Regions from separate parts of the Homo sapiens genome. Here region 2 is linked to region 1. Evidence: fine-mapped expression QTL. A gene starts in region 1. The other region holds a variant in brackets. All regions are shown on one strand. Distances are from middle to middle.

Region 1 (15,744 bases):
AGTTATATTATTGGTTTAACCAATATTTTATCCTTCAGGACTGGACACATCAATACCCTGAATGACATCAAGATTCTGTTAACAGTGAGAAAGGGGAAATGGGCCACCAAGTGAGCAGCTAATTATATTGGACAAAGCTACAATATCTACTTTTGCTTCTGCTATAGCTAACCTCTCTGACCTCCATCTTCACTCTCTGGCTTTTCTTTCTCAGAGTGCCCTCTAATGAACAGCTATTTCTCCTACTGACACTTTGAGAATTAAACCCAAGGATCTCCATTAAAACAACATTTGTTCCTCAATGACCAGGATTGAGGTAAAAGAAGAGGAATAGAAAGCAAAAGAGGGAGCTGACTCAGACTCAGAGCTAGACCCAGTAGCAGGCGCATTGTTCATTATAGCTCCTCCATGGGCCAGGCACTGTGCTATGCACTGGGGAGTCAATGGTGTGCAAGTTAGGCAAAGTTTTCTCTTTCATGGACTACATGTTCCAATGCAAGAGATAGTTAATACACTCATAAATAGAATATGAAGTCAACACTGAGAAGCATCATGAAAAAAAAAACAGGGCAAGAGTTAGAGGTGATGCGAAAGGTTTTCTGAAAAAAATTGAGCACTGACCTTTTGTGTGAGAACTGTGTAACTATCTGGGAGACAGGACGTAGGAAGGCCTCAAGGTGGGAGGGTGGCTATGACAGAGAATACCTAGAATGCAGATATGGCCAGGGTGAACAAGGGTTACAAATGAAGTTAGAGATATAGCCAGTGACCAGGGAATGCAGGATTTAGTTGGCCTTGAGATTTTATTTTTTCATGTTGTGGAAGTCACTAGACTTGAACAGGAAGGTGACATTATCTGCTTTCTATTCTAAAAGACTCACTGCAGCAGCTATAAATAAGAGTATACCTATTATTATAATAATTAACAGTGCATATTTGAACAGAGCAGTTATAACAAATTTTTATAAGTAATTAATAAACCCAAACAATATTTCATAACTATATTTTTTTAAATGAGAAAGAGCTTCTCCTCCCACCCAAGTAGTTTATATACTCATGGACATTTCGCTAGAGTGACATACAGTCTAGAACCATTATATTCCTAGCATTTTTTTTTTTGAGACAGAGTCTTGCTCTGTTGCCCAGGCTGGAGGCTGGAGTGCAGTGGCACGATCACAGCTCACTGCAACCTCCGCCTCCCAGGTTCAAACAATTTTCCTGCATCAGGCTCCCAAGTAGCTGGGATTACAGGCATGAGCCACCACGCCCAGCTAATTTTTTTGTATTTTTAGTAGAGACAGGGTTTCACCATGTTGGCCAGACTGGTCTCGAACTCCTGACCTCAAGTGATCCACCCCCTCGGCCTCCCAAAGTGCTGGGATCACAGGCATAAGCCGCCGCACCCAGCCATTCTTACTATTTCTTTTCATAATTGCCAGCTTTGACATGTCTACTTTTTATAATTAAGTAGATAGAAAGAAAAAGTGTTTATTGTAGTAATGCCGTTCAATTTGTCTGAATTCCTTTTGAATGACTTGTCAACAATCTCACACACCAACTTATTATTAAAAATTATTTTTGGTGATTCATCAATTGACAATTGCATTATATCCTCCTTCAATCCTATAAAGACCAAACCATGGAAGCCTCCCGAGCCGTGAAAGGACTTGTTACCCCATCACTGGATCATTCATACACTCATTGTGGATGCCCATATTTTTAATCACTTCTTGTTTGGCATTCTGCAGATTTTTATACCCCAGGATAATAAGATTCAGTGACAGGTGAGGGCTGTGGTTTTCTTTTGTTATGTGGGAGAAAGGCAATGGTGAAAGAAGTCACCTTGATCAAAGCACGTCTCAGGCACTTGAATTTAGTAAAGAGTACATATGCACACTGAAAATCTAGAAATAGATTCCCTTAAAGCTACCCCTGCTTGCCCATCCCTTGAAAAATCTCACACATAGCTCGGAGCCTGTTATTCTAGTTGGTGAGCTCTGTAAGGGTGTGTTATTTTATTTCTCTTTACCCCTTGCCAAGCAGTATGTCTGGCACAGCCATCTTTTTGTTTAAAAATGAGGATCTCGAGCCAAGATGGCCGAATAGGAACAGCTCCGGTCTACAGCTCCCAGCGTGAGCGACGCAGAAGACGGGTGATTTCTGCATTTCCATCTGAGGTACCGGGTTCATCTCACTAGGGAGTGCCAGACAGTGGGCGCAGGCCAGTGTGTGTGCGCACCGTGCGCGAGCCGAAGCAGGGCGAGGCATTGCCTCACCTGGGAAGCGCAAGGGATCAGGGAGTTCCCTTTCCGAGTCAAAGAAAGGGGTGACGGACGCACCTGGAAAATCGGGTCACTCCCACCCGAATATTGCGCTTTTCAGACCGGCTTAAGAAACGGCGCACCACGAGACTATATCCCACACCTGGCTCAGAGGGTCCTACGCCCACGGAATCTCGCTGATTGCTAGCACAGCAGTCTGAGATCAAACTGCAAGGCGGCAACGAGGCTGGGGGAGGGGCGCCCGCCATTGCCCAGGCTTGCTTAGGTAAACAAAGCAGCCGGGAAGCTCGAACTGGGTGGAGCCCACCACAGCTCAAGGAGGCCTGCCTGCCTTTGTAGGCTCCACCTCTGGGGGCAGGGCACAGACAAACAAAAAGACAGCAGTAACCTCTGCAGACTTAACTGTCCCTGTCTGACAGCTTTGAAGAAAGCAGTGGTTCTCCCAGCACGCAGCTGGAGATCTGAGAACGGGCAGACTGCCTCCTCAAGTGGGTTCCTGACCCCTGACCCGCGAGCAGCCTAACTGGGAGGCACCCCCCAGCAGGGGCACACTGACACCTCACACAGCAGGGTATTCCAACAGACCTGCAGCTGAGGGTCCTGTCTGTTAGAAGGAAAACTAACAACCAGAAAGGACATCTACACCGAAAACCCATCTGTACATCACCATCATCAAAGACCAAAAGTAGATAAAACCACAAAGATGGGGAAAAAACAGAACAGAAAAACTGGAAACTCTAAAACGCAGAGCGCCTCTCCTCCTCCAAAGGAACGCAGTTCCTCACCAGCAACAGAACAAAGCTGGATGGAGAATGATTCTGACGAGCTGAGAGAAGAAGGCTTCAGACGATCAAATTACTCTGAGCTACGGGAGGACATTCAAACCAAAGGCAAAGAAGTTGAAAACTTTGAAAAAAATTTAGAAGAATGTATAACTAGAATAACCAATACAGAGAAGTGCTTAAAGGAGCTGATGGAGCTGAAAACCAAGGCTCGAGAACTACGTGAAGAATGCAGAAGCCTCAGGAGCCGATGCGATCAACTGGAAGAAAGGGTATCAGCAATAGAAGATGAAATGAATGAAATGAAGCGAGAAGGGAAGTTTAGAGAAAAAAGAATAAAAAGAAATGAGCAAAGCCTCCAAGAAATATGGGACTATGTGAAAAGACCAAATCTACGTCTGATTGGTGTACCTGAAAGTGATGTGGAGAATGGAACCAAGTTGGAAAACACTCTGCAGGATATTATCCAGGAGAACTTCCCCAATCTAGCAAGGCAGGCCAACGTTCAGATTCAGGAAATACAGAGAACGCCACAAAGATACTCCTCGAGAAGAGCAACTCCAAGACACATAATTGTCAGATTCACCAAAGTTGAAATGAAGGAAAAAATGTTAAGGGCAGCCAGAGAGGAAGGTTGGGTTACCCTCAAAGGAAAGCCCATCAGACTAACAGCGGATCTCTCAGCAGAAACCCTACAAGCCAGAAGAGAGTGGGGGCCAATATTCAACATTCTTAAAGAAAAGAATTTTCAACCCAGAATTTCATATCCAGCCAAACTAAGCTTCATAAGTGAAGGAGAAATAAAATACTTTATAGACAAGCAAATGCTGAGAGATTTTGTCACCACCAGGCCTGCCCTAAAAGAGCTCCTGAAGGAAGCGCTAAACATGGAAAGGAACAACCGGTACCAGCCGCTGCAAAATCATGCCAAAATGTAAAGACCATCGAGACTAGGAAGAAACTGCATCAACTAATGAGCAAAATCACCAGGTAACATCATAATGACAGGATCAAATTCACACATAACAATATTAACTTTAAATATAAATGGACTAAATTCTGCAATTAAAAGACACAGACTGGCAAGTTGGATAAAGAGTCAAGACCCATCAGTGTGCTGTATTCAGGAAACCCATCTCACGTGCAGAGACACACATAGGCTCAAAATAAAAGGATGGAGGAAGATCTACCAAGCCAATGGAAAACAAAAAAAGGCAGGGGTTGCAATCCTAGTCTCTGATAAAACAGACTTTAAACCAACAAAGATCAAAAGAGACAAAGAAGGCCATTACATAATGGTAAAGGGATCAATTCAACAAGAGGAGCTAACTATCCTAAATATTTATGCACCCAATACAGGAGCACCCAGATTCATAAAGCAAGTCCTGAGTGACCTACAAAGAGACTTAGACTCCCACACATTAATAATGGGAGACTTTAACACCCCACTGTCAACATTAGACAGATCAACGAGACAGAAAGTCAACAAGGATACCCAGGAATTGAACTCAGCTCTGCACCAAGCAGACCTAATAGACATCTACAGAACTCTCCACCCCAAATCAACAGAATATACATTTTTTTCAGCACCACACCACACCTATTCCAAAATTGACCACATAGTTGGAAGTAAAGCTCTCCTCAGCAAATGTAAAAGAACAGACATTATAACAAACTATCTCTCAGACCACAGTGCAATCAAACTAGAACTCAGGATTAAGAATCTCACTCAAAGCCGCTCAACTACATGGAAACTGAACAACCTGCTCCTGAATGACTACTGGGTACATAACGAAATGAAGGCAGAAATAAAGATGTTCTTTGAAACCAACGAGAACAAAGACACCACATACCAGAATCTCTGGGACGCATTCAAAGCAGTGTGTAGAGGGAAATTTATAGCACTAAATGCCTACAAGAGAAAGCAGGAAAGATCCAAAATTGACACCCTAACATCACAATTAAAAGAACTAGAAAAGCAAGAGCAAACACATTCAAAAGCTAGCAGAAGGCAAGAAATAACTAAAATCAGAGCAGAACTGAAGGAAATAGAGACACAAAAAACCCTTCAAAAAATCAATGAATCCAGGAGCTGGTTTTTTGAAAGGATCAACAAAATTGATAGACCGCTAGCAAGCCTAATAAAGAAAAAAAGAGAGAAGAATCAAATAGACACAATAAAAAATGATAAAGGGGATATCACCACCGATCCCACAGAAATACAAACTACCATCAGAGAATACTACAAACACCTCTACGCAAATAAACTAGAAAATCTAGAAGAAATGGATACATTCCTCGACACATACACTCTCCCAAGACTAAACCAGGAAGAAGTTGAATCTCTGAATAGACCAATAACAGGCTCTGAAATTGTGGCAATAATCAATAGTTTACCAACCAAAAAGAGTCCAGGACCAGATGGATTCACAGCCGAATTCTACCAGAGGTACAAGGAGGAACTGGTACCATTCCTTCTGAAACTATTCCAATCAATAGAAAAAGAGGGAATCCTCCCTAACTCATTTTATGAGGCCAGCATCATTCTGATACCAAAGCCGGGCAGAGACACAACCAAAAAAGAGAATTTTAGACCAATATCCTTGATGAACATTGATGCAAAAATCCTCAATAAAATACTGGCAAGCCGAATCCAGCAGCACATCAAAAAGCTTATCCACCATGATCAAGTGGGCTTCATCCCTGGGATGCAAGGCTGGTTCAATATACGCAAATCAATAAATGTAATCCAGCATATAAACAGAGCCAAAGACAAAAACCACATGATTATCTCAATAGATGCAGAAAAAGCCTTTGACAAAATTCAACAACCCTTCATGCTAAAAACTCTCAATAAATTAGGTATTGATGGGACGTATTTCAAAATAATAAGAGCTATCTATGACAAACCCACAGCCAATATCATACTGAATGGGCAAAAACTGGAAGCATTCCCTTTGAAAACTGGCACAAGACAGGGATGCCCTCTCTCACCACTCCTATTCAACATAGTGTTGGAAGTTCTGGCCAGGGCAATTAGGCAGGAGAAGGAAATAAAGGGTATTCAATTAGGAAAAGAGGAAGTCAAATTGTCCCTGTTTGCAGACGACATGATTGTGTATCTAGAAAACCCCATCGTCTCAGCCCAAAATCTCCTTAAGCTGATAAGCAACTTCAGCAAAGTCTCAGGATACAAAATCAATGTACAAAAATCACAAGCATTCTTATACACCAACAACAGACAAACAGAGAGCCAAATCATGAGTGAACTCCCATTCACAATTGCTTCAAAGAGAATAAAATACCTAGGAATCCAACTTACAAGGGATGTGAAGGACCTCTTCAAGGAGAACTACAAACCACTGCTCAAGGAAATAAAAGAGGACACAAACAAATGGAAGAACATTCCATGCTCATGGGTAGGAAGAATCAATATCGTGAAAATGGCCATACTGCCCAAGGTAATTTACAGATTCAATGCCATCCCCATCAAGCTACCAATGACTTTCTTCACAGAATTGGAAAAAACTACTTTAAAGTTCATATGGAACCAAAAAAGAGCCCGCATCGCCAAGTAAATCCTAAGCCAAAAGAACAAAGCTGGAGGCATCACACTACCTGACTTCAAACTATACTACAAGGCTACAGTAACCAAAACAGCATGGTACTGGTACCAAAACAGAGATATAGATCAATGGAACAGAACAGAGCCCTCAGAAATAATGCCGCATATCTACAACTTTCTGATCTTTGACAAACCTGAGAAAAACAAGCAATGGGGAAAGGATTCCCTATTTAATAAATGGTGCTGGGAAAACTGGCTAGCCATATGTAGAAAGCTGAAACTGGATCCCTTCCTTACACCTTATACAAAAATCATTTCAAGATGGATTAAAGATTTAAACGTTAGACCTAAAACCATAAAAACCCTAGAAGAAAACCTAGGCATTACCATTCAGGACATAGGCGTGGGCAAGGACTTCATGTCCAAAACACCAAAAGCAATGGCAACAAAAGCCAAAATTGACAAATGGGATCTAATTAAACTAAAGAGCTTCTGCACAGCAAAAGAAACTACCATCAGAGTGAACAGGCAACCTACAACATGGGAGAAAATTTTCACAACCTACTCATCTGACAAAGGGCTAATATCCAGAATCTACAATGAACTCAAACAAATTTACAAGAAAAAAACAAACAACCCCATCAAAAAGTGGGCAAAGGACATGAACAGACACTTCTCAAAAGAAGACATTTATGCAGCCAAAAAACACATGAAGAAATGCTCATCATCACTGGCCATCAGAGAAATGCAACTCAAAACCACAGTGAGATATCATCTCACACCAGTTAGAATGGCAATCATTAAAAAGTCAGGAAACAACAGGTGCTGGAGAGGATGTGGAGAAATAGGAACACTTTTACACTGTTGGTGGGACTGTAAACTAGTTCAACCATTGTGGAAGTCAGTGTGGCGATTCCTCAGGGATCTAGAACTAGAAATACCATTTGACCCAGCCATCCCATTACTGGGTATATACCCAAAGGACTATAAATCATGCTGCTATAAAGACACATGCACACGTATGTTTATTGCGGCACTATTCACAATAGCAAAGACTTGGAACCAACCCAAATGTCCAACAATGATAGACTGGATTAAGAAAATGTGGCACATATACACCATGGAATACTATGCAGCCATAAAAAATGATGAGTTCATGTCCTTTGTAGGGACATGGATGAAATTGGAAACCATCATTCTCAGTAAACTATCGCAAGAACAAAAAACCAAACACCGCATATTCTCACTCATAGGTGGGAATTGAACAATGAGATCACGTGGACACAGGAAGGGGAATATCACACTCTGGGGACTGTGGTGGGGTCGGGGGATGGGGGAGGGATAGCATTGGGAGATATACCTAATGCTAGATGACACGTTAGTGGGTGCAGCGCACCAGCATGGCACATGTATACATATGTAACTAACCTGCACAATGTGCACATGTACCCTAAAACTTAGAGTATAATAAAAAAAAAAAAAATGAAAAAAAAGAAAAAAATAAATAAATAAATAAATAAAAATGAGGGAAGTGGGGGTTTGGAGTGTCAGTTTGTTTTTCCCATTCTTCCCATATCTTTCCTAACTTCCCATCCCACTTCCCAAACTGAGATGTCACCACTGGGACACTGACAACATTTTCTGGATAGGGGAGCCCCAAGCTGGGGACAATAACAGAGATGACATAAGCACAGAGAGGTACAAAGTTTGTCTTTATTACCCAAGAATCAGGAATGGAACAAATGAAGTGGGACGTTTGAGTTAGATTTCTTGGTTGGGACCCTGGTTTCATTACTGTCATGGTCACAAAACTGAGTTCTCAGCCTCCTCCCTGTCAGGTCAGGTGGCAGCAGCGGGCAGTGGTCCAGTCCACCACACTGCACTGGCAGTGGCAGGTGGTTTCCAGCTGAACATCCCACGAACCACAGCCATAGCCACAAGCACAGCCAGTGACAGCCATCCCTGCATGAGCACATGAAGCACAGACATCAGAGCTCTTGGAATTTAAGAGGAGGAAGGGCTACCCACAACCATCTTTCAACCCTGTGCAGTCAGGGGTAGAGCTAGGTTTCGTGGGGCCTCAAGCTCATTCAATTTTGCGAGCTCATTTCAAGAAAAGAAATACAGAAATCACAGAAACAAATATTTGCTGCCATGAAAGAGACTCATGCAAGTGAGAGACTTGGAACTTGGGAGTTTCAGTTTTCTTCGATTTGTGATAAATTCACCTCTCTGTTGGCCCCTACCCATCAAAACAGAGGAATAGATTGGAAAGAGAAATGAAGTATGTGATCATTATGGGACAATGGAGGAGAGGAAGGGCTGAGAAACAGGGGCATGAAGTGAAGGGGTGAAAGGAAGAGGCAGAAGCCCAAGATCCCCCAGTAGCATCCTTCAGGGAAACAAGAATGGGCAAGGGGTCTCTGGGAACCAAGAGTCATGACTCAGCCCCAGGGTGCCAGGGTGATACAGACCTGACATGGGGGAAGACGTAGGTGCAGGGAGATGGACAGGGGAGGATACAGGGCATCGTAGTCGCCATTCCCTCTCAGGGAGTTACTCACCAGCAGGGCAGGAGGACGGTCTGCCTTGGCTTTTGACACTAGCACACGAGAGCTTCTTGCTTATAGGAGAGGGACTGTACTCTGAGTAGGAAAGAAGAAAGGGTACATCCCATGAGCTATCCTCCCCATAATCCCCTTATCCCCTTCCAAATTGTCTTCTACCTTGGAGGTGACACTGTGTCCAGAATCAGCCTACTCATCAGCTTTTAAGGTTAGTTTCCTCATTTTTAAAGCAGAAGTAATAGTTGTCCTTACCTCATAAAATGGTTGTGGGAATTAAATGAAATAATCTACGTAAAACTTGGATTATACCTGGTTCATAATGAGTGTTCATAAATTACAGCTACCATTCTCCTCCACCTCTTCCTCCTCATCAGGAAAACCTCAGCTTTTAGCCAAGACTTCAAACACGGGTAGGGTAGTGTAGAAAGCCCTCATCAGGGGTTGGGCTTGGTTGGGATCTTGGGATGGGATAGAGACAAAGCTAGAGTTTAAGAACAGGAGAAATGAGCAAGGGTCAACCCCCCGCTTCCCCTACCCCAGTCAGTTACCTAGACTGTTGAGAACATCCTTGATCTTCTTATCCATAACGGAGTCTAAGGAACACTGAGTACTCCCCGGGTTGATCAGCTGGAGAAGGGGGATTAGGATGAGAAGGAGGCAAGAGGACGGCCCCATCCTGTACAGAGTCAGTGTCCTGGGGCTGGGAGAAAAGATGGAAAGCAGCTTAGATCTCTGAGCTCCTGGGTGGTGGTGAAGGAAAGAAGACAACGTGGTTAGTTTCCAGGGAGTAAAGATGGAAGAACAGCGTCATCAGTACTGGATCTCTTTAGGCAGTTTGGAGAAGCAGGTAGGGTTGCTGAAGAACAGATTTATTCACCAAAACATTCAGAGAAGGTCTACAAGGACTAGCCAGGCAAGGGCGTTTTAATACACCTGGTATTAACCTGGGCACCTTTAACATACAAGCACACACAAACATGTAAACACACTCCCAGCACACTTTCAAAGACCTGTGCCAGCTAGGGTAACAGGTGACTGTGATAAACTTTGGAGTGTTCATGAGAAGCAACAGCTGCCTTTGCTCTGGATCTCTGCCAAGGGAGTCCTCCTGCCTTTTTGTTCTCCTTCTCCTTTCTTCTTGGCAACCCGATAAGGCTAGCACCTGGGCCTTCTGTGGTCTGCCGGTATTATAGGCTTCTTGTTTGATCCTTCATCAGGAAGAGGTTACTTTGCAGTTAACAAACAAATTAATCCACCCATCATCTATCCCAAACCCAAGTGTATGCTCTTTCTTATCTCTGTTGGCTGAGGGAGGGCCCTACTTGTCACCTGTTCAGACACCATTTTATTGTCCCTGGCCAATCTCATTTGGAGGAAAGTCACAGAAAGACTAATTAATCCTGGATTAAAAATAAGGAAGTTCAGTATTTACTTAACTAGAAGCATGGTTTATGATTCCAGAGTTCTTTTGGGGGCTCATAAAGTTTCCCTTTTTCCCCCACCATTCTCAGCTAATCTTTCGATCTTGTCTCCTCATGGTCACAAGGTAGAAGGTGCCACATCCTCAGCCCAGACCCTGAGCAGGAAGGAAGGAGTGGGGCAAGGCCACTTTCTGTAGGGGCTTTACCTTTTTATTTTAAGAGCAAGATCTTTCTCTAGAAGCTCAAGAAGATTTCCCCTTACATTCCACTGTTTGGTTCTGGGTCACACAACCTCCCTTTCTATCAGCTATGGCTGAAAAAGAGAGCTGGGCTTCACAATTCCTTATCCAAGACCTGGGGCCCAGGTATGTTTCAGAACTCAGAATGTTTCAGATTATGGAAGGTGCAAATTCTGTATATTATGTTAAACCACCAAGGAGGTTGGGGGCAGCACTCTGCAGTCTAATGCATAAATAGCCTGATGCAAAATGTATGAATATTAATGTGGGATAAATAAAAGACCATAAAGAGCCTCACACCAGGCCATGCCAAGTTTTTCTGCCAAATGAGTTAGCCTCAAATTTAGGACAGAACATTTTCATCTTTAGAGCCTTTTAGATTTTAGAATAATGGATAAGGGATTGAGGACTTTGAGGATTCACATATGGCCAAGAGGAATGAGGATGCCATGATTCCTCATCTAGGATGGGGCATGTGGCCACCATGAATAAATAAAATTTAAAGAAGTGCAGATGAAGAAGCAGAGAAAGGGGCCATGTGTTGTGGCTCATGCCCATAATTCCAATACTTTGATAGGCTGAGGCAGGAGGGTCTCTTGAGCACAAGAGTTCAAGACCAGCCTGGGCAACATAGTGAGACTCTATCAAAAAAAAAAAATTTACTGGGAGTGGTACCATGCATTTGTGGTCCCGGCTACTTAGGAGACTGAGGCAGGAGGATCACTTGAGCCTCAAGGTTGCAGTGAGCTGAGATTGTTTCACTGCACTCCAGCCTGGATGACAAAGCAAGACCTTGCCTCAAAAATAAATAAAATAAAATAAAATAAAATGAGAAGCAGAAAAAGGCAGTTAGGTGACTATTCCTTGAGGCAGTCAGAGCTGGAAAGGCTGGGCTCTACCTCTGTGACCAGCCTTTCTGCCCACTTTCCTGGAGATGCCCTCTAATGAACAGCTATTACTTATACATATCTCTCTCAGGCAACTTTGAGAAATGAGGCCTGGAGATGCCAGCAAAAAGGCAAGGATGCTTCCTCAATTACCAGACAGGAGTTGAAGAGAAGAAAAATGAGACTGGAGAATAAGAAAGAGCATACACTTGGATTTGGGATACATGATGGGTTGATTAATTGTTTGCTAATTCAATGAAAATTTGTAGAGCTTCTCTTTACCAGCTCTAGCTCTGCTGACTCAGTGGTGGACAACGTAGACAAGCTCTTTGCCCTTTTGTAATGGGGGAGATAAATACAGTGTATATACATATACTGTATTTATATATATGTATGTATGTGTATATATATATATGTATGTATATATATACATATATATATGTATGTATGTGTATACATACATATGTATGTATGTGTATACATACATATGTATGTATGTGTATACATACATATGTATGTATGTGTATACATACATATGTATGTATGTGTATACATACATATGTATGTATGTGTATACATACATATGTATGTATGTGTATACATACATATGTATGTATGTGTATACATACATATGTATGTATGTGTATACATACATATGTATGTATATATGGTCAAGTATTGAGAAATGCTGTAAAGAAAAATAAGTCAAGACAAGGCAATAGAGTGTGCCACTGTGCTATTGCCCATAATGCAGTATGTTCAGGAAAGGTGTCTCAGAAAAGGTAACAATGACCTGAAGAAGTGAGGGGGTGAGTCACAGGAAAATCTGGGACAAATGTTCTAGCCTGTGGAACAAGTATAAAGAGCCCACGGCAGAGAGTTGGTTAGTGTGTTGAAAGAATGACAACAATGGCAATATGGCCAGAATGAAGTATAGGGGGAAGGCCAGAGAAGAAGTCAGAGAGCTGACCAGGGCCAGATTATATAGAGCTTGTAAGCCAATGTAAGGGCTTTGGATTTTATTATAAATTTGACAGCAAATTATTGTAGTGTTTTGTTCAGGGGAGTGACATAAAATGATTTATGGTTTTCTAATGTTTAATTTTTCTTTTTTTTTTGGAGATAGGGTCTAGTTCTGTTGCCCAAGCTGGAGTGCAGTGGTGTGATCATGGCACTGCAGCCTCAAACTCCTGGGCTCAAGTGATCCTTGTGCCTAAGCCTTCCAAGTAGCTGGGACTATAATAGTGTGCCATCACACCCGGCTATTTAAAAAAAAATTTTTTTTTGTAGAGACAAGGCCTTATTATGTTGCCTAAGCTAGTCTTGAATGCCTGAGCTCAAGTGATCCCCCCATCTCGCTTCCCAAAGGTGAAATTACAGGTGTGACCCACTGTGCCTGGCCCTGATTAATGTTTTATAAAGCTTACTATGGCCACTGTGGAAGAGACACCGCGGAGGGAAAACAGGTAAGATGTAAGCAGGGAAAGCAGGCAGCAGGCTTCTACAGAGTTCTAGGTCTTGGAGAATAATCAAGGAAGGAGTGAGAACCGAGCCTCCATAGGGTTTGCTGATGTATGCAAGGTGTAGAAGAAATAGAGAAGTACAGATCTAGAGTTTTGTTTTGAATAACTTATTGAAGAGTGCTGCTACTTACTGAAATGGGGTTCCCTGGGAGAACAGTAGATATGGTGGGAACATAAAATCATATTTGATCATAGTCAATTTAATGTACCTATTAGAAATGTAGGGGGAGCTGTGGCATACAGAGTTAGGTATACAAATCTGGGGTTCAGGGAAACAGTAAGAGTTGGAGATATAAATTTGTGAGTAATCAGTACACAGGTGAATCTATGTGCAGAGATACTCTCATAGGAAAAAAGAAATCTATTTGTTTTTAGTGAAGCACATAAAGAAAGCAGAAGACTGGGCAGTGGATGAGCAGAAACATATAAGTTTAGAAACATGAATTAAGCTGCATTGACTAATCAATATGTTGGGAATAGCAAGGAAAGAGAAGAGGATAGGCACGCTCAAGAGTGCTCCTGGGTTACAATAAGCTTGGACAGCAGGGATAGTGGCCACCTCCGGGGAACACTTGTAGTCAGTGGCATGTTTAGCATACTTGACACCCAGAGGGGATCACTTTTTAATACTTCTGTCCTTTATATAAAAAAATCATTTTCAGTAATAATTATGTAATGATTACTAATAGAGCTAATTATTATTTTTGATTCATTCTCTGGTATTAAAACAAAAAAATTAACTATCAGAAAGGATAAATTTTAATTTTAAATATATCATTTAAATTCAGTACAATATTTTACATATGAACTAAAATTTGCACTTACCAAACAAAAATATACCTCACAGTTTGCACTGTTTCAATATAAATTTTAAACACAATTAAACTTCACATAATCATATAGAATGATCAAATGGCTCTGTAATTCAAGTTGGTTTAATTTGTCTTTACAATCACTGGGCTACATTATTTCTTTAGAATCTACTGTTTAAAGGCAGGAATATGTAATAGCACAGGGATTGGAGACAAACCTTTAGAAACAAACTTGGGTATTGAATTGTTATGCTCTTACTTTAGAAATGAAGGTGTGTAGCTGAGGCCAAGTATGTTGGGGCCAACTGTATAACTGGAAGTTCTCTGAATTAATTTTCATGTAGAACACAATGTTTATTAAAATATAAATAATAAAAATGTACTAAGTTGAAGTTTACATATATATTGTTAAAACTCAACAGTAATCACAGCAATTGTTTAGAACTTCAATTCACAATGTTTTGGGGGAGGAATATTTTACCATTGATATTACTTAGAATTGCCATGCATGGTGATAATGAAAAGCAGATTAACTTTTATAGGCTTTATTATTGCTTTTGAATTCTCTATGGATAATGCACCCTGCTTCTAGCCAGCGTCGCCACCCTTGGTAGTCGCTGCTGATGGTATAAGGACATTGCCTGGGATTAGTCATTCTCTCATAGAGCTTCTGCCTCAGCATTCTTGGAAAATGTTCAGAAAAACCCTATACAGGGAGAAGAAAGAAAGGTTTTTTTACTTCCAAAATTTGTAGATAAACCCAGTGGAGACTGTTAAACATTCTCCTTTCCCTTAGAGCTACCTTCTTCCTAAGACTGCACTCCTCTCCCAACGACCTAACTGTGGAGGTAACTGTAATTGTCCATAATGCAGGATGTTCAGGGAAGGTGTCTCAGAAAAGATAACAATGACCTTTTAAATCTTATTTCCTTTCCCCCATTCGATTCTCCACTGATTATTTTGTATTTCATTTAATTTTATACACATAAAGTTTGAGAAGTTGTTAGCATAGGGCTCCAGCTGAAAAAGAAAAAAAAAAAAAGAGGGACCATAAACCCGGGTATGGGCAACTGGGAAAGGTAAAGGCAGAGAAGCTGGAGATGAAGCTAACAGGCTCATCTGTTTCAGGCTAAGCTAAGGCACAGATGTGACCATGTCCTATGACTAAGTCCTGTGACTTCTCATACATGGGAGCAGAGGGCTTCAGCATAGAATGTGGAATTCTGAAGGTGCATAAGACAATCCATTGGCTTAGAAGTTAATATCAAAGCTTCTGTTTTTATTTAGTTTTTCATTAAACATTTTCTATTTTTGTATGTTTTATCATGAACATAATGTGTTATTATATATCTCTAGTTCATTAATTACATTTGAATATAGGTTGAATTTTTTTAACTCATGATGTATCTGGAAAAAAAGGAGACCAAAAAATAAGTTTCCAGAATGTTTTTGGCTAGAATTGAGGAACTCTCTGATGTGGCATTGAAGGGCTGATCATTTTTTATATTCTACAGAAATGAATCTTGTTGATTCCTATACTTTAGATACTACACAATAAATTAGTCAAATTGATATAAGACATAAAAATTGAGAATCCAGATTTGTTTTCTCATTCAGAGAGGAAGCTGACCTACCCCTGAATGGAGATTAGCCATAGGTTCTCTTG
Region 2 (15,744 bases), 20 kb before region 1:
CAAGTCTCTTTTATAATTCAGTGCAAGAACAGCTTGGCCACGATACTCTGTTTGTGGTCTGGGTCATTAACATGTACTGCAAAGAGCCCAGGTATAATCAGATGCTCCAGGTGGAGTAAAGTCATCTTCTATAGTCATTACCCAGATGTTATGTGAGTTGCTTGTATGCCATGGGCAGCTCACTGTCCTCTATCTTGGCTTGCTCCTTTTTCCTGACTTATCACATCCATGTGTGGCCTAAATCATTAGGGGGTTGCTACTGCTTAGCCTGTTCTAACTTACATACCAAAGAGCTATGGCCGGGCACGGTGGCTCACGCCTGTAATCCCAGAACTTTGGGAGGCCGAGGTGGGTGGATCGCCTGAGGTCAAGAGTTCAAGACCAGCCTGGCCAACATGATGAAACCTCGTCTTTACTAAAAATACAAAAATTAGCTATGCATGGTGGTGCACACCTGTAATCTCAGCTACTCGGGAGACTGAACCAGGAGAATCGCTTGAACTCAGGAGGCGGAGGTTGCACCAGCCTGGTCGACAGAAGCGAAACTCTGTCTCAAAAAAAAAAAAAAAAAAAAAGAGCTTGGCACATCTAACTATGAAGTACAGAGCATTTTCTGTACCTAGGACCATAATGTATGCTATATATGTTATAGTTCATTTTGGTCATCTCCCATATCTTTCTTTTCAAGGTTGTTTGTAATCTCCCAATTATTTCTGGCTTTTTTTTTTTTTTTTCATATTTTTAGATTAGCCAATGAGAAATGATCCCCTGATCATTCTGCGGGAAAACCTCAGCTACGATATAGCAATAGAATTATTTCAAAAGCCTGAGGCCAATGACCTTGTGACATCACAATTAAATAATATGCATTCATAATATGCATAACAAAGATAAGTACTTACAACAAAACACAAAGCAAAAGCCATATATCCAAGCCAGTGTGCCACACAGCACTTTACAAAGATTTCACCTAAGCCTGGTAATTTTTGTTCTTTGACATTTTTTGTTATTCCCAGATGGTTCCAATTTTGTCTTATGATCCCTAAGATTGCTCTGATTGAAACCATGGTCTTCTCACTGAACTCAGAGTGCCTCAGGGGAAAGAGGTTTAATATCCACTTTCATGGTGGTAATGTTCCTGTTGGTTAGAGACATTTTTAGGTATGAGATATATCTCAAACTGACAAATTTTCATACCAGAGCCCATTTTTATTTGAAGGGCTAGACATGGCTGTGATTCATAACCAGGTGGTGATTTCAGCTGCCCTTGTACTTGGGAGCATTGCAGAAGTTGATGCTCATCAATTACCTCTCATCCAACCATTCTTCTGAGGCTATTGGGCTGGAATTCAGTCAAAAATTCACCTGTCATGGAACAAGTTCACAGTTGAGAAACAGACCTCAATACTGTTAGTCCCTTATTGACTGGGTTGGTACTATTTTTATGCTCCATGGAATTCATTGCTCCCATACATAAAAAGAACATTATATTAATGCTATCATACCCTTAAAGATGAGCATTCAGCCAATCAGATAATAGGTAGTTTCTTACATTTTGCCCCAGTTTTTCAAGTCTCATAGCAACCTATCCAGTCCAATTCCTGATAAGTTGGGATATTTAAGACATTAAATCAATACCCAGTAAACATAGACATTTACAAGCTCAAGAACATAGTTTAAATATATCTGAGCCCAGGTGACTTTTCAAGCTCACTCATCTGAAGGGGCTTTCCTTTGCTGTGTCTGAAAGATGTTATCTTCCCAGCTCTACTCAGACATCCAGCACTCATTTCAATCACCCCTCGTCTGAGATGGAAGGGCTTATGAATATGATTAACAGTGGTGCATGTCATAAAGAAGTCCTTTAGTAGATGGTCCACTAGATATTGCTGTGCCCTGAAAAGTTCTGTCAGTTTTTAGGATTGGGTAACTGATCATGCTCATTCTAATTAGGGACAATCCACTTTACACTCTAGCAGTCTGTATCTCTTTCAGTCAGAATTACATGGTACTTGTTGTGATCCAAACCACAAATTCATTTAGAAGGCACTTGTAACCATCATGGTGACATCTTTGGTGTTTATCAGCCTGCTGTTGGTGGCTGGTGAAGAGCGGCAGGGCAGGCTGAGACTGGATGACTGTTGGGGTGCTTGTGGGTATAGGATTTTCTGATTCCATGATAATAGCTCACCTGCTTCTGATGGCTCCAGTGTAATCCACTTACTGAGTATTTTCTATGTGTCAATCATGGTGTCAGGCATTTAGTGTAAAAACCCCATCTAATCATTATAAAAATTCTATCAAGAAGGTAATATTATCCCCATTTTACAGAAAAGTCAACTGAAATTTCTAAAGGTTAAGTAAATCAACCAACTTTATGAAAGATCATGAATAGAGATGAGATTTGAAGGTCCATCTGTCTAATTGCAAAGACAATGCTCTCCACACAGCATGTATGTCTTACCTCTGAAATAAATACACAATACTAAGATTGTGTAATTAGCTCCCAGATCTCAGTTGTACTTCATTTAAGTTTCAGAGCATGATGTAGTTTATAAGAAAATATTGAACCCTCTACTATGTAAAACTTTCTGTCCTAAGCACTCTGGAGGATCTGGCACTGAGATTATTCAGAGAGAGCTTCAGAGGGGGATGGGATGTCTGCTCCTGGCCTTCAAGAACAGGTGGCTTTCTATAGGCAGGGATAAGGGATTGGGGATGGATAGTGGTGCCAGGAGGGCATTTTGGGTAGAGGAAATGGGTTGAACAAATACATAGGGAAAAAAGAACTGCATAGTGGATTAGAGCTCCAGGGAAAAGGCACATTTCAATGGAATGGAGATTCTCTAGAGAAAGGTTAGGAAATACGGTTGGAAGGGTCAATTGAAATTGATTGTGGAGGGCACCAGTGCAAAGCTGAAGGTGGTAAGCTTAGTCTGGCAGGCAGACTAAGGGGCGGGGGGCATGAAAGTTTTTGAGTAGGAGAACAATTTGTCAAGACAAGATTTCAGGAAAGAGAACCTTAACACCAATGGGCACAGTGGGTTGCAACACCCAAGGCAGGGTCAGAAAGAGCAGTCAAGAGCCTAAAATGGAGCTCCACACTGGAGAGCATCCTGGCCAAGGGAAAACGTGACATTAGAAACACAAAAAGCAAGGCTAGGGTCTCTCAGCTCAGGCTCTTCCCAGCTGTGTCACCTCAGGCAAATTTCTCAATGGCCCTCAGCTGCTTCTGCAACATGTAAGTAACATCTACACCACAGCATTGTTTATTGGTTCATTCAAAGCATTCATCGAGTGTCCGCTATGTGCCAGGTATAAGGAAGACAAGAGGGGTCAAGGGTGTCTCCAAAATATTTGACCTGTGCAACAAGAAGAGGGGATTTGCCTTTCCTGTGACACTTAAATGATAAACTGTGTGCAAAACTCCTGGCATAGTGCTGGGCATACAGTGGCTGCTCATTAAGTGTAATTCTTTTTGAAGCACTAAGGACCAAATTTTGTTTGTAGCAATGTGATAGAAATGAAGACATTAATAAGAGCTTTTGTAAACAGAGGGAGCAGGCAGGTCTAAAATATATGATTGTCTAGAATATATAAGTTCTATAAAGTTTCTAAAGTAACCTATATAATACCAGGTAATAAATGGTTTAAAAGAACCCTTTCTACCCCCCTGAAATACAAAGGAAGGAGCCTGTTGCATGTCGGGGGACTTGTTAATGGCATCTATGTGTGTCAGGACCTTAGCAGGAGAGAGATGGGACACACTAGCCGGCTGAGTGGCTGGAAAACCTAATAAAGGGTCAGCGGGGAGGAGTAGATCCTGGAACCAGGAGACAGACTCATGGCAGGAGAAATGTAGACTTGGCAGGAGCTCTGGCCTTGGTAGAAGAACACAGTGACCAGCAGAGACTGGAAGGAGCCTGGGTTGAAATACTCCTCTCCACTGAAAACTAAACCCTAAAGCATTACCCATCGCTCAGTGTTTCCCATAGAAGTTAATGGGGAGAAATCAGGAAGAAAAACCATTGATTAATATAAAACACAGCTTCTAATGTCTCTGCTTCTGCAGCTCATCATGAGGCCTTGGTTGACAGTTGTAGCGTCTTTTCCACCACACATTTTGTGTTCCCTACCCTCTCTGCCAGACTTCAGCTGAAGAGAGTTCTTTACCTGCTGGGGAAAATTGTTTTGCTTCTTCATTTCTGTAGGATCTGACTTTTTAGTGTCTCTTTCTTTAGTTGCCAAGGTTTTCAGGACTACTGGGCAAAAGTACTAAGAAGTGCACCAATGACTCCCTGGTGGTCCTCTTTGGCCTTATTTTGCAGCAGCAACCAAATTTTTCTTTATAATTGGAGTCAATACAATACACTAGGTAATACAGAAACCCTCTTATTTGCTTATTGGCTCAGTGGCATGAGAATCAATAGTTCTTGGAAGCGGTCTTATCTTCCAGTTGATCAAGCAGCAGTCTTAGCTTCCAATTCACAGAAACCATGTCTTCTATTCCTTATCAAAAGCATTTTTCTTTTGGATACTAGGACTCTTTGGAGCTCAGGGTTGTAGGTGAGACAAAAACATCCTCCAATGTGTTGATGTAATAGTAGAGGTAGGAAACGCTCCTACCTCTACTCTGTAGTTCCCAGACATGTGCATTCTGGCTATGGGGCTGGCTTAAGGCATTTACCTCATTCTGCAGGAATGCCTCCCAATTTTGAAGGATGGCAACAGAATTGAGACTTCAGCAGAATATATCATTAATTCATCAAACCAGGTACTTCTGTGTTATGGGATACATGGTACAGTTAGTGAATTCTATGGGCATGAGCCCATCACCTTAATTCCCACACATAAAATGTGATCTCTAGACAGAAGTGATGTATAGGATACTATGGTGATGATAAGGCATTATCATTTGTGGACTTAAGTAAAGCGTTGCATCCTCCATCATGAAAGGTGTCCGATATAAACAACCTGCTACTAGGTGGTCAGCTGGTACCTTATGGGGACTGGTGTTGTACTGGAGGCCTAGCACTAACTTCTGACATTGGGAAGTTGAATACTCAGCAACGGTGTTAAACAGACCAGCGTTGGTAAGGGGAATTCCATGCTGTTAGGGTGCTCTTCATTTCTGCTTCCATCACCACTTTGTGCATGCTCCCACTGAGCAAGCACTGGAGTTGGTGGGGAGAGAGGAAACTGGGGGGTTTACAGGATGTCTCTCCTTATTCTGATTATTAAAATCTCCCTCCCTTTCCTGTAGTCTCCCTCGTCACCATTTTTCTGTCATTGGCCAATTCATTAGGCTGTGGGGTGTTTACAAATGTGTGTATGGTCATAATTCCGGCTGCTTTTTCTTCCAAATGTGGTGGGCAGCCCAATGTTCCAGCCAAACTTCTGCTCTCTGGGAGGATTTTCCTTCACTGCTGTCAGTCAGGGCCAGCCCTGAGTGAGACTATAGTACAGTAGCTTTCCTGCAGTGCCAGCATAACACACAGATTTTTTTCCTTCTTCATTAACTGGTTATAGGGAACTCCTTTTGTGTGAGAAGTGAAAGAGAATGCATAGGCTGAGGAGATGAAGAACTTTGAAGAGTGAGCTCATCAAATACAATTCAGACATGAACAGAGATCACAAAGAGTGTCACCAACCTGCACAGGTATGGGTATGCTTTACTTAATTCTAGTCTTACACGGACATAATTCTCTTTAGAGGAATCTTAGTCATTTTTCAGTATATTGGGCTTAAGAATGATACATTGTTACACAAATGACACGTTTTACTTTATTTTTGATAGTCTTGCCAATTAAAAAAAAACTTAGCTACTTCTAATAAAAACAATAACTTTTAGATAAATAATCAGTCACTTTTGAAGTTCTAATTTCCAATCATGGCTCTTCTATCTCAAGGAGTTCTCTGCTCCCTTTTGTCTTCTAAAAATGGTTTGCGTACAGGGAGAATTTCCTGGTGTCAGAGGGAGGGGATCCCTGATCCAGAATCTTATTTATGAACTTCTCATATTCTGTGTCCTCCTGGTCTAGACTCCAGGAACTTTTTGTTTGCTTGTCCTTCTAGCGTTTCCATTTGCCATCACTGATATTTTTGGATTTTCTATACTCTATTTGCAGACCCTCCCCAACCATCTCAGGATTATCTATTATTATCTATTACCTCTCCCTAACTATTCTACAATTCCCAGGCAATTTTGGGAGCAGAACACTAGTCTGGACGTTATTCAATTCACTCTGAGCTTATTTAGGATTTTTATCAAAATGTCTATCATCCTTCCCTGGCTCTGAAGAGCCACGGCTCAGAATAGGGCAGGAGTATGCGTGTATGTGAAGACCCCTTGAAGATGACTTGAGGTCCCTTCTTGAAGTTTCTCTATGTAGTTCTATGCCCTCTGAATCTCTCCAAGCATATTCTAGCAGAAAAGGGCTTTTATAAATAAAAAATAATAATAATAAGGTAAAGGACTTCTTTAAATAAGGTAAAGGACTTCCCCAAGAGTGTAACCTTCATCTTATCTGCCTGATGGTTTAAAGTAAATCTCTATACTCTTTGTCCTTATTATGTAAAGCCAAGGCTTTAGAATGTAGAACATCCCTTATCTTTTCCAGGAAATTCTTGCTGTCAAGAATATTGCCTCACTGTGGATTCAAAGATGCCAGTTTTGAAACCCAAAGCTGAGAGTTGACTACTTTTTCCCCAGGCTCCCTGTTCCCCACACTTGGATTGACAGATTATCAGGCACAAACATTGTCTGTATGATTTGTTAAACAATGTATTTGATCATTTTCCACTGTAGTGTTGCATTTTCTCATGCCTCTCAGTTTTTATTACTTACTTTAAACCTTTGCTCTGTCTTCTTCAGGTGAGCATAAACTTAGCTTCTTTAAGTCCCTCTGCCAGAGGCGTTCGAACCAGAGCAACTCCAACTTGAATAGGGACTGGGTAAAATGAGGCTGAGACCTATTATGCTGTGTTCCCAGGATGTTAAGCATTATTAGTCACAGGATGAGATAGGAGGTTGGCACAAGGTACAGGGTACAAAGACCTTGCTGATAAAAGGATGTAGTAAAGAAGCCAGCCCAAACCCACTAAAACCAAGATGGTGGTGAGAGTGACCTCCATTGGTCCTCATTGCTCATTTTATGCTAATTATAAGGCATTAGCATGCTAAAAGACACTCCCACTTGTGCCATGACAGTTTACAAATACCATGGCAACATCAGAAAGTTACCCTATATGGTCTGAAAGGAGGAGGAACCCTCAGTTCCGGGAATTGCCCACCCCTTTCCTGGAAAACTCATGAATAATCCACTCCTTGTTTAGCATAGAATCAAGAAACAACCATAAAATAGCCAACCAGCAGCCCTCTGGGCCACTCTGCTTATGGAGTAGCCACTCTTTTGGTTCTTTGCTTCTCTATTAAACTTGCTTTTATTTACTCTATAGACTCATCCCGAATTCATTCTTGTGTGAGATCTAAAAACCCAATCTTGGGGCCTGAATCAGGACCCATATTATTCTGTTTTCATGCTGCTATAAAGAACTGCCTGAGACTGGGTAATTTATAAAGGAGAAAGTTTTAATTGACTCACAGTTCAGCATGGCTGGTGAGGCCTCAGGGAACTTACAATGATGGCAGAAGGCACCTTCTTCACAAGGTAGCAGGAAAGAGAAGTGCTGAGTGAAGGGGGAAGAGCCCCTTAAAATACCATCACATCTCGCGAGAACTCACTATCATGAGAACAGCATAGGGGAAACGACCCCCATGATTCAATTACCTCCACCTGGTCTCTCCCTCAATACATGGGGATTATGAGGATTACAATTCAAGATGAGATTTGGGTGAGGACCCAAAGCCTAACCATATCAGGACCCCTTTCTGGTAACACCTCCCCTCACTGTGATTCCTATTTCTGGTCTGTCCCAGTGCTGCCTAGGGACTTTGACTTCTTTAAATAAACATTTTCCATGCTTTCCGTATCCCCACTTAAATCTTGCTTATCAGAGCATTTCCCACAGATAATTCCTCAGCCTGTATTTGGAAGAAATGTAGCCCTTTCATTTAGGTCCTTTCATGTAAGCACACTCTGTCTCAAGCAGCCTTCAGAGCACTAAGTGCACCCCATCTACTCATGTCTTCTCCTGAAGCACATCCTCACTTTCACACACTTTCTATCATCTTCTCCTCAGAGTTCCCTCTCTCAGGAAGCTCTTGGTAGTAGACATATTCTTACTCTTTCTCCCTTCTTCCCTTCAGGGCTTAGCTCCATGAGAACCACAAAGTAAATGGTGTCATAAATATAATTTACCTTTGTGATTTTTTTCCACTTTAGTTTCCACAGCCCTTCCCATTATGCATACAAC[A/C]CTGTTTGATAAGGCTCCAAAGTAGTTATTTTTATTTATTAGAGCACTCAGAGATTTCTAAACCTATCCAAATTAAACTGATGGTAGAATTTGAGCCAGAAAACACAAGGAATATTTGAAGAAAGGATTTTCTCAGCATCAAATGCTACCTTGGTCCTGCAACTGATCTTTGTTGTTCAGAGAAGGGCTGTCCCTGCAGAGGTGTCCAGGTGTCTTTCCTGTGGCTTCTTTAATTGAGGACCTTAAAGAAGAGCCTAGTCCTAAGAAATGACTCCTCTTCAGTTTCTTTCCCAGACCCTAAGGGATTGTGCCCTGGTCGTAGGAATTTACACATACTCCTACCCCTGTGGATCTATAGGGTTGCTTGCTGCTGGTTTTGCCTAAGAGGAAAGAGAAAGTTTCCCCGGGTTGGGCCATTTGGTGCCTATCAATGTGGGAAGAGAGCTTTCTGGGCTGGCTGCTTGTTGTGGCAGGATCCCTCCTGCTAGTGTTGCTTTTCCTCCTGATGTCTCTTGATGGGTTGCGGGGGGGTCTCAGGGGAAAAGGTGTTATTCTCCTGGTTGTCAATTGTCATTGGGGCTTCCAAATGCCCCACTGCTAGTACTGCTGAGCTTACCTAGTATTTCAGTGAGACAACTATTTATTCCAGGAAAACCGAGAGCCTACCTATGTCACCTTCCATTGCTAGGCTGAAGTCAGAAAATGCTAGACCCGGATGACCTTCATCTGTTGGGTGGGGGTTTGTGATAACCACTACCAACATGTTATTCTTCCAGCCCTGGGGTCTAGAATCAGTTTGCCTTGCCTTCCACTGTTCAGAATTTGCCTTTGGTTGCCTCCTGCATTATTGCCAGGGTTGATCATTTACTTAGCAGGATGTAGCAGGGTGAAACATGTTACGTCATATTATCCAGACCAGTAATGCCATCTTTATTTTATTCCCTTCCTAGAGTATTCTATCGTCCTTTTACATTCTCTTATGTAATCTTTCTCCTTTATCTTCATTCCATGATTTTTTAGCAAAGATTAGTCCATTATGTGTGGATTCATATTGCAGTTCTTTAACTTATGTTTGTAATCATTAAAGTATATCGTAAAGTGATGGGATTTAAAGAAAAAGTAGGTTAGATGTCACCTAATTTATCAAGTTTTTTTGTTTGTTTTTTTGTTTTTTTCTTTGGAGAATGTAAGGAAAATGAATATGCTGCAGTTGATAGTAGGCTGAGGCAGGCATCTGGACCAGCGTAACTCGGTGAGTTTGGAGCACAGACACATAACTCCGTTGTTACATAACCTGTTTGTGTAAGCTCATACTTGCTTCTGAGTCACTATTGTCTGTAACAGGTATAACTGCCTTGTTGATGCTGTACATACAGCTTGCTCCCACAGAGAGAAAGGGTTAAGCTGCTGACTCTGTAAGGGAGAGTCACCTCCTTGCAGGCCAGGGAGTGCAGCTGTAAGCGTGCAGGTGGCAGCAGCCAGAGCAGGCAGCCGAGACAAAGGCTGACGGAGACAGAAAACATAATAAAGCCATATATTTCACCTGCTTATGGACCCTGAGTGTTCTTTCAGCTATCTGCCACCCACCCACCCACTCCCCTCGGACCTCAGCATGTGCTGAAACCTGAAATATGGTGTAACAGAGAAAATTCTCATAATTTTTGTCATATAAAAAAGAAGCAAATGTTTGTTCCCAAAACTGAGTATATTTTGCCCCCAAAATGTACTATGAATCTGATAACATTGCATTCGTCATTATGTCCAAGGCAGAGAATGTTTTGATTCATTTAGTGACATGGAGTACGTAAGCAATAGCAACCAGTCCTCACTATCCTATCTGAGTCTTTCAAGAAAATGAGCCAATGATGGCTAAATTTCCTGTCACAGGTAGCTAAACAGGCATGAATGGGGCAGGAGAGGGCTCTCCCCCACCCACTAGGATTGTTGGGTGATGGCTTGGCAATTATCATCACATTTCCTCTCTAAAAGTGATAAATTGGCAAAGGGCACTGGGGAGAGACAATCTCCTAATGGTCCACACCTGTTAACAGTAAAGTGTGAATTGAATGCAGGTGCCAGGGAGAAGCAAAAAGGGGATTCCAATAAAATCTCAGGTATTGGGCAAGTAAGCAAGGGCAAGAGCATTAAGAGGCAAGATGGTGAAGTATCACTGGAAAAGGGAAGGAAACCTCCAAGGGGCATGTGTACAACTTCCTTGTGTGTACTCACTTCTCAAGCATAAGGAGGGCACTGTGCATGCGGGCAGCCCACCCTAAGGGATGAATTATGGGAAAGAGGTGCAAGTCACAGGAAGTGGGCCAGCCTATAAAGTCCTGGGATCAAGGTTAAACATCGCACTTGACCTTCACGTGCCTGCTTGGGTCTCTTCCAGGTATACCTTCCTTTCTTTTCTATTCTAAAACCTTTTAAATAAACTTCCTGCTGTGAAGCTTGCCTTGGTCTCTTTTTCTGCCTTATGCCCCTCCGTCAAATTCTTTCTTCTGAGGAGGCAAGAATTGATGTTGCTGCAGAATTCATTGCCAGTAACTCAGATACCTTCCACCGATAACATCCCTATTTCTAATATAACAGCCTTAGAAGTAAGGAATCTGCGAGGAGCCGACATTGGACTGAAGTCCAGGAACATACATGGTGGAAGAGGGGAGGAAGGAAAGCTCTATAAAAGATCTGAGAACAGATCAAAGACAAACATCACCATACAATTTCCCACCCCAATAACCGCCCTCCTGCGGATGATATCCTCAGAGTGAAATCTGTAGTTCTTCTCAGTGTAAGAGAGACAGGTACTTGAGCAGTGGAAACTTCATCTAAGAGGTGGCAACTCTGATGCCTGAATCACACTACTGGAAGAAGAATGGCACAAACAATATGAATAATATGTTTGGCTTTTCCATGGCAGAATTGAGATATGGGACATTGTTTTTTTGTAAGATTACGAGATCAGACTTTGAATTATTTTTAGTTAAAAAAAGATTTATGAATTCAGTTCAAAGTTTCTCTTTCAGAAAATCTGGATTTGTAAACACTATTTTGAATCTGGAGATTCAAAGAAGTCAATGTTCAGAATCAAATCTAAGAAACGACTCCATGATTCAATGGGTGAGGAAACTGGGAAAACTAGGAAGCAGCTGTTAGTGGGAGCAAAAATGTATTGGTTATACTTCAAAAAATCTGCTACATCAGTAAGTCTTTTTAATGTCTTCATAAATTATATGTGGGTACTTTATACAATTTAAGCAGCTATTATTATGATTATTAAGACTGATGGTTTCTTTCTTTTCTTTTTTTTTTTTTGGGATGGAGTCTCACTCTGTCATCCATGTTGGAGTGCAGTGGTGCAATCTTGGCTCACTGAAACCTCTGCCTCCTGGGTTCAAGCAATTCTCTGCCTCAGCCTCCCAAGTAGCTGGGATTACAGGCGCCCGCCACCATGCCTCAGCCTCCCAAGTAGCTGGGACTACAGGCGCCTGCCACCACGCCTGGCTAATTTTTGTATTTTTAGTAGAGATGGGGTTTCACCATCTTGGCCAGGCTGGTCTTGAATTCCTGACTTCGTGATCCACCCACCTTGGCCTCCCAAAGTGTTGGAATTACAGGTGTGAGCCACCATGCCCGGCCCTATTTTTCTTTTAAGTGTAATAATTCTAGTTAGAGGAGACCACACCCAATATAGTTTACCAATGTGTATTTTTCTCTGGGAGTGTACAATTTTACACAATTTTACAGTCAGTGGGTTATTAACCACTGAATTGACTCACCATCTGTGCTTATCCTACTTATGCCTCTGGTGTTCGTTGCTTATATGAGATAAACAGGCCATTAAGTGTTGCATCAAGTTCCTCCCCTATGAAACCTCCTGCTTGTCCATCTTAATCCTGCCAACCAATCATAGGCTAATAAGAGTTCACAAACTTCTTCTTTTAGGATTTGTCATAATTAGTGAAGCCCCTAAGCCATATGTATAATAACTTTTCTTGATGAAACTCTCAGTCTGTGGAGGGAGGCAACCTAATTTTTGCACCTAAGCACACTCAATCTCAGGTGGTGCTCAGCCTCCTCTTCCCTCTCCCTCAGCCCTTCACTCTTGGCCTCCCACAAGCACATACTCACATCCCTACCATTTCTAACACTTTCTCCTCAGCTGTGGTGCCCTCTCCCAGATAGATTTGACCATTAGAGAATGACTCTCCCTCTCTACCCTTTTCTTCTTCCTTTAAGGCTGAGCTTCAGGGCTGACCCAAGCGAATACTGTAAACTTTGCCTTGGTAGATTTTCTACCTTAATTTCTATCGTTCCTTCCATTATACAAACAACACTGTCTGGTAAGCCTCAAAGTGAGACCCTTTCTATGCATGTGTGTATTTAACTAGAAGAATCAGAGATTTCTGGTCACCTTCACTTTACAAGTGAATCTAATGGTAGCATTTGAGGCAGAAAAGACAGGGACATTTTTTAAAACGAGAACTTTCTTAGATTCCCTCAAATTATATCGTGGGTCATGCAAATAGTCTTCGAGGCTTAGGCAAGTAGCTCCTGTGGCCTTATAGAACTGTCTTCCTGATGCCTTTTCAGTCTACTTAGGGCCTTACAGGAGTTTCTATTCATAATCAAGGGCCTTCTTTTCTACCTCCAGGCCATATACCCAGGGCTTAGGTCCAAGCCTTAGCACTAACATATTCCTTCCCAGATCAATCATGTGCTTCAGCATTTCCTCTTTATGGGATTTGCCAGAGGGAAAAATAAAAATCCCTCTCACCTAAGAGGGGATTTATTTAGCTAAAACTAACACTTAATATCTCAAAAGTAGGATATGTGACAGCTAAAAATAAGGGCTGAATGATGGCTTACTACATTATCAATGTCTTACCAAATGGTACCCATTATGTTTCTGCTGCACAAATGTGCAGAAGCTGGCTTCTAACATTCAGAGAGCACACAAGTGAATAAAAGCAGTTGGCATACAGCCCTATAAAACACAATTCACTGGTGGCTCAAATCTCTTCCTGTTGGGGCCAGTTTTATGGTTTCTGCAGAATTGGAAATCTGCCCCTCAAAATAGCTTTCGGATACTTATTCACTGGCCAATTTAAGCATGTGTAAGAAATATGCTTCTGATTGTTAGTATGTAATGCAGAAGTGTTAACATCAGCTATTGGGAAAATGTTGGGATTCCCTATTACCATTGTGCCTTGATTTAGGTTACAAGCAACCTTTGTGAGAATTAGGGAGTGTAGACACTTATATGTTAGCTTCAGAATGGAGGTCTCTAGAAGGATAGTATTCCTTTTGAGTGAGATGTCTGATGATAGAAGCACACATTCTAGGGAAGGATTTCTTAACCCTTGGCCCTATTGACAGTTCATGCAAGGCAATTCTTTGTTGGCAGTGGGGGTTTTACCTGTGCATTGCATGAAGTTTCTTGACATTTGTGGTCTATTCCCAACTAGATGCCAATATCACTTTGCCTCTGCCAGGTGTGACAACCAAAAATGTTTCCAGATATTTCCAAGTTTTCTGGTTGAGAACCACTATTCTAGTGTAAAGAGAGGACAGCCTATGCTATTTTAGGTATCTAAAGGGCAGCATCCAAAGCTTATGTGGGGTGTACTCAACATTTGAATACAAAGTAAGGAGAACTAAATGCACACACACATACACATACACATACACACATTTTGGCCTTACTTTAATTTTTTTTCTCTTTCCTTTCTGGAATGCACAACCTCCCCAACCTTTATCCATGAATAACAAATTAGCAAAGATTGCTAAACAGTGTATAGATTTCTTAAAAATTTCCTTTGTTCTAGGCCAGGCACGGTGGCTCCCGCCTGTAATCCCAGCACTTTGGGAGGCTGAGGCGGGCGGATCACAAGGTCAGGAGATCGAGACCATTCTGGCTAACACGGTGAAACCCCGTCTCTACTTAAAAATACAAAAAATTAGCCGGGCGTGTTGGCGGACGCCTGTAGTCCCAGCTGCTCGGGAGGCTGAGGCAGGAGAATGGCGTGAACCCGGAAGGCGGAGCTTGCAGTGAGCCAAGATGGCGCCACTGCACTCCAGCCTGGGCGACAGAGCGAGACTCCGTCTCAAAAAAAAAAAAAAAAAAAGTAAAAACCTTTTGGGTTTTTGGGAGGATTGCTTGGGGTCAGGAGTTTGAGACCAGCCTGGGCAACCTAGTGATACTTCTTCTCTATAAAAATAAAAAATAGCCAAGTGTATTAGTGAGCGTCCTCTAGAGGGACAAAATTAACAGGATAGATGTATATATAAAGGGGAGTCTATAAAGGAGTATTGACTCACATGATTACAAGGCAAAGTCCCACAGCAGACCATCTGCAAGCTGAGGAGCAAGGAAGCTAGTCCGAGTCCCAAAACCTGAAAAGTAGGGAAGCCGTCAGTGCAGCCTTCAGTCTGTGGTTGAAGGTCCAAGAGTCCCAAAGCTGAAGAACTTGAGGTCCGATGTTCGAGGGCAGGAAGTGTCCGGCATGGGAGAAAGATGGAGGCCAGAAGACTCAGCCAGTCTAGTTTTTCCACGTTCTTCTGCCTGCTTTTATTCTGGCTGTGCAGGCAGCTGATTAGATGGTGCCCACCCAGATTGAGGGTGGTTCTGCTTTTCCCAGCCCACTGTCTCAAATGTTAATCTCCTTCGGCAACACCCTCACAGACACACCCAGGAACAATACTTTGCATCCTTCAGTCCAACCAAGTTGGCACTCAATATTAACCATCACACAAGTGTGGGAGCACGCATCTGTAGTCCCAGCTACTTGGGAAGCTGAGGCAGGAGGATTGCTTGAGCTCAGGAGTTTGAGGCTGCATTGATCTATAATCATTCCACTGCATTCCAGCCTGGGAAACAGAGCAAGATTCTGTCTGTTAATTAAAAAAATAAATAAATAAGATAAAAACCTTCAGAGAAATGAAGTTTTGAGAAGCAAGAGCTTTGCTGCAATGGGTAATGGTTGTACTGAGGCTGGAGGTGGTGAGGAGAGGAGGCAACAGCACTATAAAATCTAATTTCTGATCCCACCAGAGTTGTTGCATTGGTGTTACCACCTTCTTGTTAGGATGAGAATCTGAAAATCAATCATACTTTTATAGTTCTTCCAAGGAGAGAAATTATGACACCCTACTTCATGGAACCACAAGCTGAACCACTATGTGCTAACTGATATAAGCATTCCCATTTGGAGGAGAAGCATACCTAAATTTGTGAGAGTGTTTCATACTGGACCCATGGGGAAGAGAATATCAGCATTGGATATTGGTTCTGTTTTAACCTTTCTCTTTTTGCCAATACATCCAGTAAGTAGGAATCTTTATTGTTAAGTTTCTGGTGTAGAATTG

What was found. PIP is the estimated chance that this variant, and not a neighbour inherited with it, causes the effect.
Region 2: its variant is fine-mapped to the expression of RETNLB in transverse colon (GTEx, PIP above 0.99).

Annotation. Positions count from the first base shown.
Region 1 is chr3:108,747,315-108,763,058 of GRCh38, forward strand. It overlaps RETNLB (resistin like beta), which reads right to left and starts at 10,096. Exons shown (of 3, transcript NM_032579.3): 1 at 9,745-10,096; 2 at 9,194-9,274; 3 at 8,324-8,591. The coding sequence starts at 9,871. The coding sequence ends at 8,464. It overlaps LOC105374034 (a long non-coding RNA gene), which reads right to left and starts at 948. Exons shown (of 6, transcript XR_924323.2): 1 at 622-948.
Region 2 is chr3:108,727,281-108,743,024 of GRCh38, forward strand. LOC105374033 (a long non-coding RNA gene) reads right to left here and starts at 350. Exons shown (of 4, transcript XR_924321.1): 1 at 1-350. LOC105374034 (a long non-coding RNA gene) reads right to left here. Exons shown (of 6, transcript XR_924323.2): 6 at 15,209-15,246. The variant A/C (reference allele first, on the strand shown) is at 8,377.